Linked DNA regions of Homo sapiens. The protein of the gene in region 2 interacts with the protein of the main gene of each other region in a biochemical or structural test. Each region holds a gene or a part of one and is shown on either strand. Other genes may lie near its edges.

Region 1 (4,315 bases), on a different chromosome or scaffold from region 2:
CTGTCCGATTTCCGTTTCAGGACAGATGAAGTGGAAGGCCCAGGACTGTCTTCCTCCTGTTTGAACACACACAGTAGTGTAAGAAGCAATTAAAACATTCTACTTGGCAATCTTCATCTACCGCATGCCAGCCGGCCGAGGTCTCCAGTCACCTGGGGCTTCTTTGCATTTCCTTTGTAACTTTTTCCTTCTTGCATGCTGTCCCACATTTCAATCTTCTGTCTCCTTTTTTCTTCTTCAAGCTGAGAAACAATCACATTTTACAGAAAGAATTCAGAAGCTGCCATTTCTCTCAAAGACAAAGCTAACTCTGATAATTCTTAATTTAAATGTCTTTCAGAACAAACTTCACCCTCGTTTTCTTTAGTTAATAAAACTGTTGTGATCTGGTAGTGTGAGTTTAACTCACATAGAGCAGCTTTGGTTTTTGTACACTATTAAAGAAAGCAAAATGTTTCATGAAAAAGATTACTGACTCCATTCTTCTGAAACTCACTCCTGTCAGGACATTTTTGGTAATGGGGAAGACACAGGCACATGCACACACACACTCACATGCTCCCTGCTCCAGCCTGTCCCTCCTTTTGTGCTCTGGACCTTTCATGGTAATATATTCACACATCTAGTGTTCCCTAACAATCGTGTATTCTTCTTGATATCACCAATACTTACATGGTAGGAACTGAAATGCTTATTGAATCTAATGGGATAGGACCTGGTCCTAGAAGCTTATAGACAACACAGACACAGGCATCGTTAGCCACTAAACCTCAGACAATTTCTATGCACACATTCAAACTGAAACCAGTTCATACTTGTTTCAGTTTTTCCTTATGCTTTTCAACTTGCGCATTTAGTTCTTCTTGCATTTTCAGTCGAGCAGCTGCTAAAGCTTCTTGTCGTTTAACAACAACATCAGGTTCTAAAATGTCAGAAAAAAATGGAGATAAAGCACTGTGTACAATATAAAATAGAAACTTTTGAGTGTCCATATTATTAAAAGTATAAAGAGGTATGGATATCAGACAATGAAACAACATATTTTTACATAAGTACTCCTAACCCCTCTGCATACATTTTACTGCTTCAGGGGGCAGGGGTCTGTTGCTGAGCCACGGATTTTAGCCCGAAATATCTACATCACCAGAAATCTGTTAGAAATGCCAATTTCTGAGTTCCCCTGAGCAATTCCGATTCATAAAGCCTGGGATAGTGGCCACACAGAGCACATCTTGGATACCTCAGTGACACCCACAGTCTCTAGGCTGACTAGAATCCTGGAAGACTACCAAGGAAATATAAAGTTTTCTAAATCATTATCCATCCCTTAATTAGCGCAGAAGATTCTTAAGTATTTGTTTCTACAGAAAAGAAAAATCCTTCCAAATAGCATTATGAATAGAAATGAACTCATTTCTATTCATAACGTCTACTCATAGAGTCTCGCTCTTTGCAACAAGGCTAGACTCCATCTCATAGAAAAAAAAAAAAAAAAGAAAGAAAAGACAGTCTCACTCTGTTGCCCAGGCTGGAGTGCAGTGGCACAATCTCAGCTCACTGCAATCTCCAGCTCCCAGGTTCAAGCGATTTCTCCTGCCTCAGCCACCCTAATAGCTGGGATTACAGGTGCCCGTCACCACGCCCCACTAATATTTGTATTTTTAGTAGAGACAGGGTTTCACCATGTTGGCCAGGCTGTTCTCGAACCCCTGACCTCAAGTCATCCTCCTGCCTCGGCTTCCCAAAGTGCTGGGATTACAGGTGTGAGCCACCGCGCCCCACCGAGAACCATATACTTCCTACTTTTTTTTTTTTTTTTTTTTTAAAGACAAGGTCTCAATCAATTGCCCAGGCTGGAGTGTAGTGTGGCCCGAGCATAGCCCACTGCAGCTTTGACTCCCTGGACTCAAGTGATTATCCCGCCTCAGCCTCCTGAGCAGCTGGGACTACAGGTGCGTGCCGCCACTCCCGGCTATTTTTTTTTTTTTTAAATAGAGACAGGGTCTTCCTGTGTGGCCCCTCTTACTTTTACTAAGAGACTAACTCTTAATATAAAGGAGGTGCAAAACCACCGCTTTCATTTCGGTTATCAGGCACTAACCCACAGCAGCCGCAGCTCGGTCCAGCTGCCTCTGCCTCAAGGCTCTTAGCCGGGCGGAAAGCTTCTGAAAGACCACGTAGAGAAGGATGCAGCTGAAGACGATGTACCAGCCATAGGTGGCCAGCAGGGAGCCCACTGAAAAGAAAAACAGTTTTCAAAAAACTAAAAATGACACTACTAGTTGACCTTTCCATAAGACTCAACAAACACAAAGTGTAACTCCTGCCCTCAAAGCCTTCATGGTCTAGGCTGAGGAAAAAGCCTCCTAAGTAGATCGTTAAAACACGAACTCAAGAAGTGCGACAATTCAGGGATCACTGAGAAGTGAGACTTCCCAACCATCTGGGGAGTCGGGGGCAGTTAGAGTGTGGAGGGCACAGCAACTGGGTTTTGAAGAATGAAGAGCAACTAATCTGAATCAGGAAGGCAAAGGCCTTTCAGAGCCACATAGAAAGGGGTGACAGCGCGGGGAGTCAGGAGTGTGTATGGGGCTGTGTGGGACGGGTCCCAGAGGCAAACGCCAACGGCCGAGTGACCCCAGTAACTACCACAGGAAGGGCTTGGTTCGCAAAAAAGACTTGCGCAAACAAGGGACAGCCGAGCCGCCCAGGGAAGTGCGGCTCCCGAGAAGCCTCCGCGCAAGGTCCGGGCCTGCTGCCCAAGGTCCGCGTAAGCGCCAACGCCCGACCGTTCCCAGGCCTCCCAGGCTCCGGCGCCCGGTGCAGCGGCGGACGACCCACCCATCATGGCTGCGCGTCGCAAAAGTGGCGGCGCGCGCCCGGCTGCCCCGCAACGACTCACCCGTGGTGTGCAGGAAGCGCAGCCCCTCGGTCTCCAGGGCCGGCCGCGCGGACAGAGACTCCTCTTGGCGTTCCATGACCGCCGCCGCCGCCGCCGCCCAGCCCTGCCGCCGCGCCTCCAGCCGGGCGCTTCCGGTGCGCTCCTACGCACACGTGGCGCGCCCGGACGCGGTCGTGGTCCCGGCCAATCGCAGGCCGACCCCGCCCCGTCGCTGGGCCAAACGCAGGGGGGCGTGGCCGAGGGGCGTGGCGGGGGAGAAATCCCGGCTACGCTCGCCGGGGCCGGGACAGCGCGTGTGGGAACGTTCTGTGCTATCTCTTGGCTTGAGTCGGGGGTGGAGGACGGACCTCGTTCACGGATTTCTTACCGAATTTCTACTTTCTTTTTTTTTTCTAATTGGACACTGAAGCCAAGGAAGTCAGTGGTCGCCCGGAAGCAGGATTTGCACCCACATCCTTGCCCGGGGCACATTGGACAACAGGGCTCAGTTGGTTGACGACTCCCAGCATTTGAGGGTTGCAGCCAACGTCCACCCCAAGTGAAGACACGAAATGTGAGCAGCCTCCTGCTCCTGCTGCTGGTGATACCTTTCAGGCCAAGAAAGTCCCCACCGATCCTCAAGGTTCTTTCTCCAAAATCAAAGCCTTTTAGGAAAGAACGATCATAGTAACTGCTCTAACCTGTGTTGAATTATACTGTATCACCACAAGACACGATCACAGAGTTACTTATAATAGTGTCCTGGCTGTGTTCCTCTGCCTGCAACGCCGTCCCGCACCCTCTTCCACCACTCAAACGTCACCACCTTTATGGTGACCATAACCATCCTATTTGAAATGTGACCTTGGGTTTTTCTGGAGCATTTGAAGTGCACATACCTAGCTGTGTTTCAAAAGAAGGGTTGGGAATTGGGAATAGAACTGAAAAAATAATGAATAGGTGACAACATCCGAGTGCTGCGTCACCACTGTCGCCAGGAGCAGTGTGGGGAAGGCAAACCATGACATGAAGCGTGAACGCAATCAGTGTTTCTTCAATGCAGGTTTGCCAAGAAGTTCCTCAAGGGGGACAGCTGCAGGGATTTGAGCACTGACCTCATCAAGCTTTCCCAGCAGTGTGTTCAGAAAGCAATAAAGGGGACCTGGCATTCATGAGCCATAGCAAAGAGAAGCCTGAAAGCTCTTCTTCCCTGTTGGCCACCTTGAAAATGGACTCCTCAGATGAACCGAGGACTCTGGATGTTATCCATAAAGGCTGTGAAGATAGCTTATCGATTTAATGAGGAATTTTAGGAGGGAGAATTTCCTTCTTCATGTTTGCCTTTCCGTTGTAAAAGGTGATGAACCATCACCACTCTTTGCTTTGCTACAGATGATTTCTCACTTGCTCTGGCATCTTGCAGGAACATTTATG
Region 2 (4,367 bases):
AAGGACAAATCTTCCACTGACTTCAAGCTTTCAGCCTGTGATCATAGCAGCCTTGGATACCATGGGTTGAGAAGCACATTCCTTTATCCTAGTTGGCTTCTTCAAGTGCCCTGGTGAAGAGCCACTGCTATAGAATGAAGCTGCCTATGATAAGATCCAGGAGTGTGTATGAATGAGGTAGTGACATGGAATACTGATGCTGAGAAAGGTGGCAGACACAGAGTACTTCTGCCCTGACTACTAAAGTTTATATTCTTTTTTTTTTTTTTTTTTTTTTTTTTTTTTTTAGACAGAGTCTTGCTCTGTCGCCCAGGCTGGAGTGCAGTGGTGCTATCTCAGCTCATCGCAACCTCCACCTCCCAGGTTCAAGAGATTCTTCTGCCTCAGCCTCCTGAGTAGCTGAGATTACAGGCATGCGCCATCACGCCTGGCTAATTTTTGTATTTTTAGTAGAGACGGGGATTTCACCATGTTGGTCAGGCTGGTCTCGAACTCCTGACCTCGTGATCCCCCTGCCTTGGCCTCCCAAAGTGCTGGGATTACAGGCGTGAGCCACCGCACCCCGACCTAAAGTATATATTCTTGCAAATGGAATACACGTCATTGTGACGTGAGTTCCAGTGACTGTTAGGAGCATAAAAGTCCCTAAATACTTTCTTAGTAGGCTGTACTGATGCTGTGGGTTGCTTGAGGAAGCAATAGGGCAGTGGTGCTCTGCCTTGGCTGCACTTTCTTTTTCATTTTTTTTAGATGGAGTCTCGCTCTGTCACCCAGGTTGGAGGACACTGGTGCGATCTCTAGTCACTGCAACCTCTGCTTCTCGGGTTCAAGTGATTCTCGTGCTTCAGCCTCCTGAGTAGCTGGGATTACAGGTGCCTGCCACCACGCCTGGCTACATTTTAGTATTTTTAGTAGAGACGGGGTTTCACCATGTTGGCCAGGCTGCTCCGGAACTCATGACCTCAAGTGATTCATCCACCTTGGCCTCCCAAAGTGCTGGAATTACAGGCGTGAGCCTTGGCTGCACTTTCTAATCACCCAGAGAGAAACTGAAAGTCCCAGTGCCCAGGCCACACCCCAGGCCAGTTTCTGCAGACTCTGCTGGGGAGTTGAAGGCATGGGTATTTCAGGTGATGCCAAGGTGTGCCTGAGATTCATAACCATCAACCTCTAGGAGGTGGTCAGTGATGCGTCTACCTGGCAAGAGCCCTGACCTCAAGCACAGCCGGGCTCAAACCTCTGCCCTGCCACCTGCTGACTGGCAGTAAGTCCCTGGGCATTGGCTTCAGCTGCTCTAAGTCTCAGCTTTCTCACCTTCCAAGATCAGCTTTCTCACCTTCCAAGAGAGGAAGATTGCGTCACAGAGTCATTCTGAAACTAAATGAGAAAATGCTGTGGTCCTTGTGGGGGCTTGAGGCACGTTAGTTCCCAGCTCTTGTCAAGAAGGCTGGAGAAGGAAGAATGGAAACAGAACAAACCAGGAAGGGAGCCCCTGACAGAGCGAGGCTAAAGAGCCCTGTACATTATCCAACTAGGAAATCGAAGGAGGAAGGAGAAAGAAGACAGAAGAGTCAACAGCCTTAGTCATACTCCTATGCGATTTATGCTGAGGGACATTTTATACCCATTGCAGGCCTTATTTTGCATCTTCTACGCAAAACAAACAGCTCAGGTGCTCCTGGAAAGGATGATTGTTCTTTCTCTGAGTAACTGACAACAATCCTCGACTCTCTAATCTGTTTAGCAGCTCCCCAGGCACATTGGGCAGCACAACCTAAGGCAGCGGCTCAAATCTTAAGGAAGCCCAAAAATACCCCGTGTGCGTTGTTACTGGATGCCCCGTCCCTTACGGCTCAGGAGATGTGTTTTTGATACACCTTGCAGCGGCTTCTGAAATGTGATCCATCCACTTAACACATCCTGAGAAGCTGCACTACGGGGAAAGGGGATATTCCCAGCAGCTCTGAAAGACTCGAGACAGGCAACCCAGCAAACCCTAGTTCCTGGCAGGCCTCAGCAACGCAGACACTAGCAACTCTGTGGTTCAAAAGCAGCCTTCCGAAAGCATCATTTTCCCCAGTTTATCAGGTCCAGGGTGATGTTTCTCTTCAGAAATCCTGCAAACCTTCTGAAGCCTTACCATCAAAAGCCTCGCCAAGGAACGAAAAGAAGCTTCGGCTGCTGACACCCAGGACCAAGGAGCAGAAAACCAGGCCCGTGAGAAGCTTCATGGTGCTGAAATGAAAGGAGAAGTCAGGCAGTCGCCCACAAGACTGGCACAGCTTCCCTTGGGACTTATATTCCGACGAGAGCCTGGTTATTTCCACTGGATCTTATTAGAGTCTCAGTGGCTCATCTAGGAAACCTTGCAGCAGGACCTCACTCAGAGCCAGAAGCCCTCGGTTCTGAACCCATCAGCCCTGAAGCCTGACTGCATAAGAGGATGCCAACGTGGCACTGATGGAGGAAGGCAGGAGTTACCACCAGACTGTCACTCCCTCAAGTAGCCTATAATTCCCCATAACGCATTTACCGTGTGTTCCCTCTGCCCCGCACAGAACTCAACATGGGATAAACACAAAGCAGGATCATTATTTTTTATTCTTAAAGCCTTTAGCACCTGGTATTCCCAGGTGTTCTCCCATCCAAGTACTACCAGGCCCGACCCTGCTTACCTCTCTAGATCAGAGGAGATAAGACACCTTCAGAATGGTATGGCTGTATGCCCCAGGATAACTATTTTTTTTAAAGGAAATGATAATCTTGTTGGGAAAGAGAAAACAGAGTAAGTTTTAAAAATCACTCCTTGGTGTGCTCCTCACCTGATCTGTGCTGTAGCTGAGCTGCGGGTCCCTGCCTGCCAGGGAGCGGTGGCTGCTATTTATACTGAGCCTTCCCTGCTGGTTTCTTGGGAGCGAAGAAAAGCTGGATGTGGTCCCTGGGGAAAGTCCCTGCAGGTCATTTCCCCTACAAAACGGTCTAAGACAAGTTCCTGGATGCCAGTGGTTTCTTCATCCCGGGTCATTTATCCCAGTTGTGCAACCTGAGGGAACAAGATGTGCCTGGCAGCTGTCAGGGCAGGAGACCAGCTCTGCTCCTCAGCATTGAGGGGGCTGAGGCTGCGGAGTTGAGAGTGGGAGCCCCGTGATGGCGGCACCTGGGCTGCTGGAAGGTGTGAAGTGAGGGCAGCTTTGAAGCCAGCTCCTGACTCTACCAGTCATTTCCTCAGGATGGGCTCTGCTGGGCCACATGGCAGATGCCTCTGAAATGAAGTCCCTCTGAGTTCATATCTAAAGCTTCAAAGCTGACAGACTAGGTCCAGCACAGTGGCTCACTCCTATAATCCCAATGCTTTTGGAGGCCAAGGCAGGAGGATCACTTGGGGTCAAGAGTTTAAGATCACTCTGTGCAAAACTGTAAGATCTTGTCTCTACGAAATATAAAAATAAATGGACCGGGTGTGGTAGTGTGCACCTGCAGTCCCAGCTACTCAAGAGGCTGAAGCGGAAGGATTGTGGGAGACCCAGGAGGTCAAGGCTGCAGTGAGCTATAATCACGCCACTGCACTCCAGCCTGGTTAACAGAGCAAGACCCTGTGTCTAAAAGAAAACAAAATAAAACTAGCAGCCTACCCCTGCCATGTCTCATGTGTGCCCTGGAAGGCTCCTTCCACCCCTCAGTCTAGATATCCAGAGATTTACCTCCTCAGCACAGAAAAGCCCTGCTCAGCTGGCCTAGTCAATTAGGAAATTAGGAAGGAAGGAAGTGGTCAGTACCAGAGCCCAGCAGGGCTGAGGCCAGGACATGCAGAGAGGCTGGTGGATATAGCAGCAACTGTGGTTTCTTCTTCTCCAGTCCGTTTTCACTCTTTTATTTTTTCTTTCTTTCCTTCCTTCCTTCATTTCTTCCTTCCTCTCTCTTTCTCCTTCCTTCCTTCCTTACTCCCTCTCTGTCTTCCTCCTTCCTTCTTCTCTCTTCCTCCTTCCTTCCTCTCTCTCTTCCTTCCTTCTTTCCCTCCTTTCTTCCTCTTTCCCTCCCTCCCTTCCCTCCCTCCCTCCTTCCTTCCTTCTTTTCTTCCTCCCTTCTTCTCTTCCTCCCTTCCTTCCTCTCTCTTTCTCCTTCCTTCCTCTCTCTTTCTCCTTCCTTCCTTCCTCTCTCTTTCTTTCCTCTTTTCTTTTCTTTCTTTCAGAATGCTATGAATATAGGCCTCAGGATAACTACTTTTTAAAGGAAATGACAATCTTGTTGGGAAAGAGAAAACAGTAAGTCTTAAAAACACTCCTTGGCATACTCCTCACCTGATCCTCCTCTCCTCCCCTCCCCTCCCCTCCCCTCCCCTCCCCTCTCTCCTCCCCTCTCCCCTCCCC

Evidence for each region.
Region 1: the proteins of SAA1 (region 2) and SELENOS form a complex in vitro, tested with the Homo sapiens proteins (one study listed by BioGRID).

What each region holds. Positions count from the first base shown.
Region 1 is NC_000015.10:101,274,440-101,278,754, forward strand, and holds the start of SELENOS (selenoprotein S), read right to left. Parts: upstream 3,047-4,315; 5' UTR 2,979-3,046; coding exon 2,903-2,978; intron 2,237-2,902; coding exon 2,102-2,236; intron 923-2,101; coding exon 816-922; intron 243-815; coding exon 153-242; intron 57-152; coding exon 1-56. UniProt on the Homo sapiens protein: Involved in the degradation process of misfolded endoplasmic reticulum (ER) luminal proteins. Participates in the transfer of misfolded proteins from the ER to the cytosol, where they are destroyed by the proteasome in a ubiquitin-dependent manner.
Region 2 is NC_000011.10:18,264,752-18,269,118, reverse strand, and holds the start of SAA1 (serum amyloid A-1 protein preproprotein), read right to left. Parts: upstream 2,856-4,367; 5' UTR 2,823-2,855; exon of another isoform or gene 2,676-2,822; intron 2,236-2,675; 5' UTR 2,232-2,235; coding exon 2,141-2,231; intron 1-2,140. UniProt on the Homo sapiens protein: Major acute phase protein.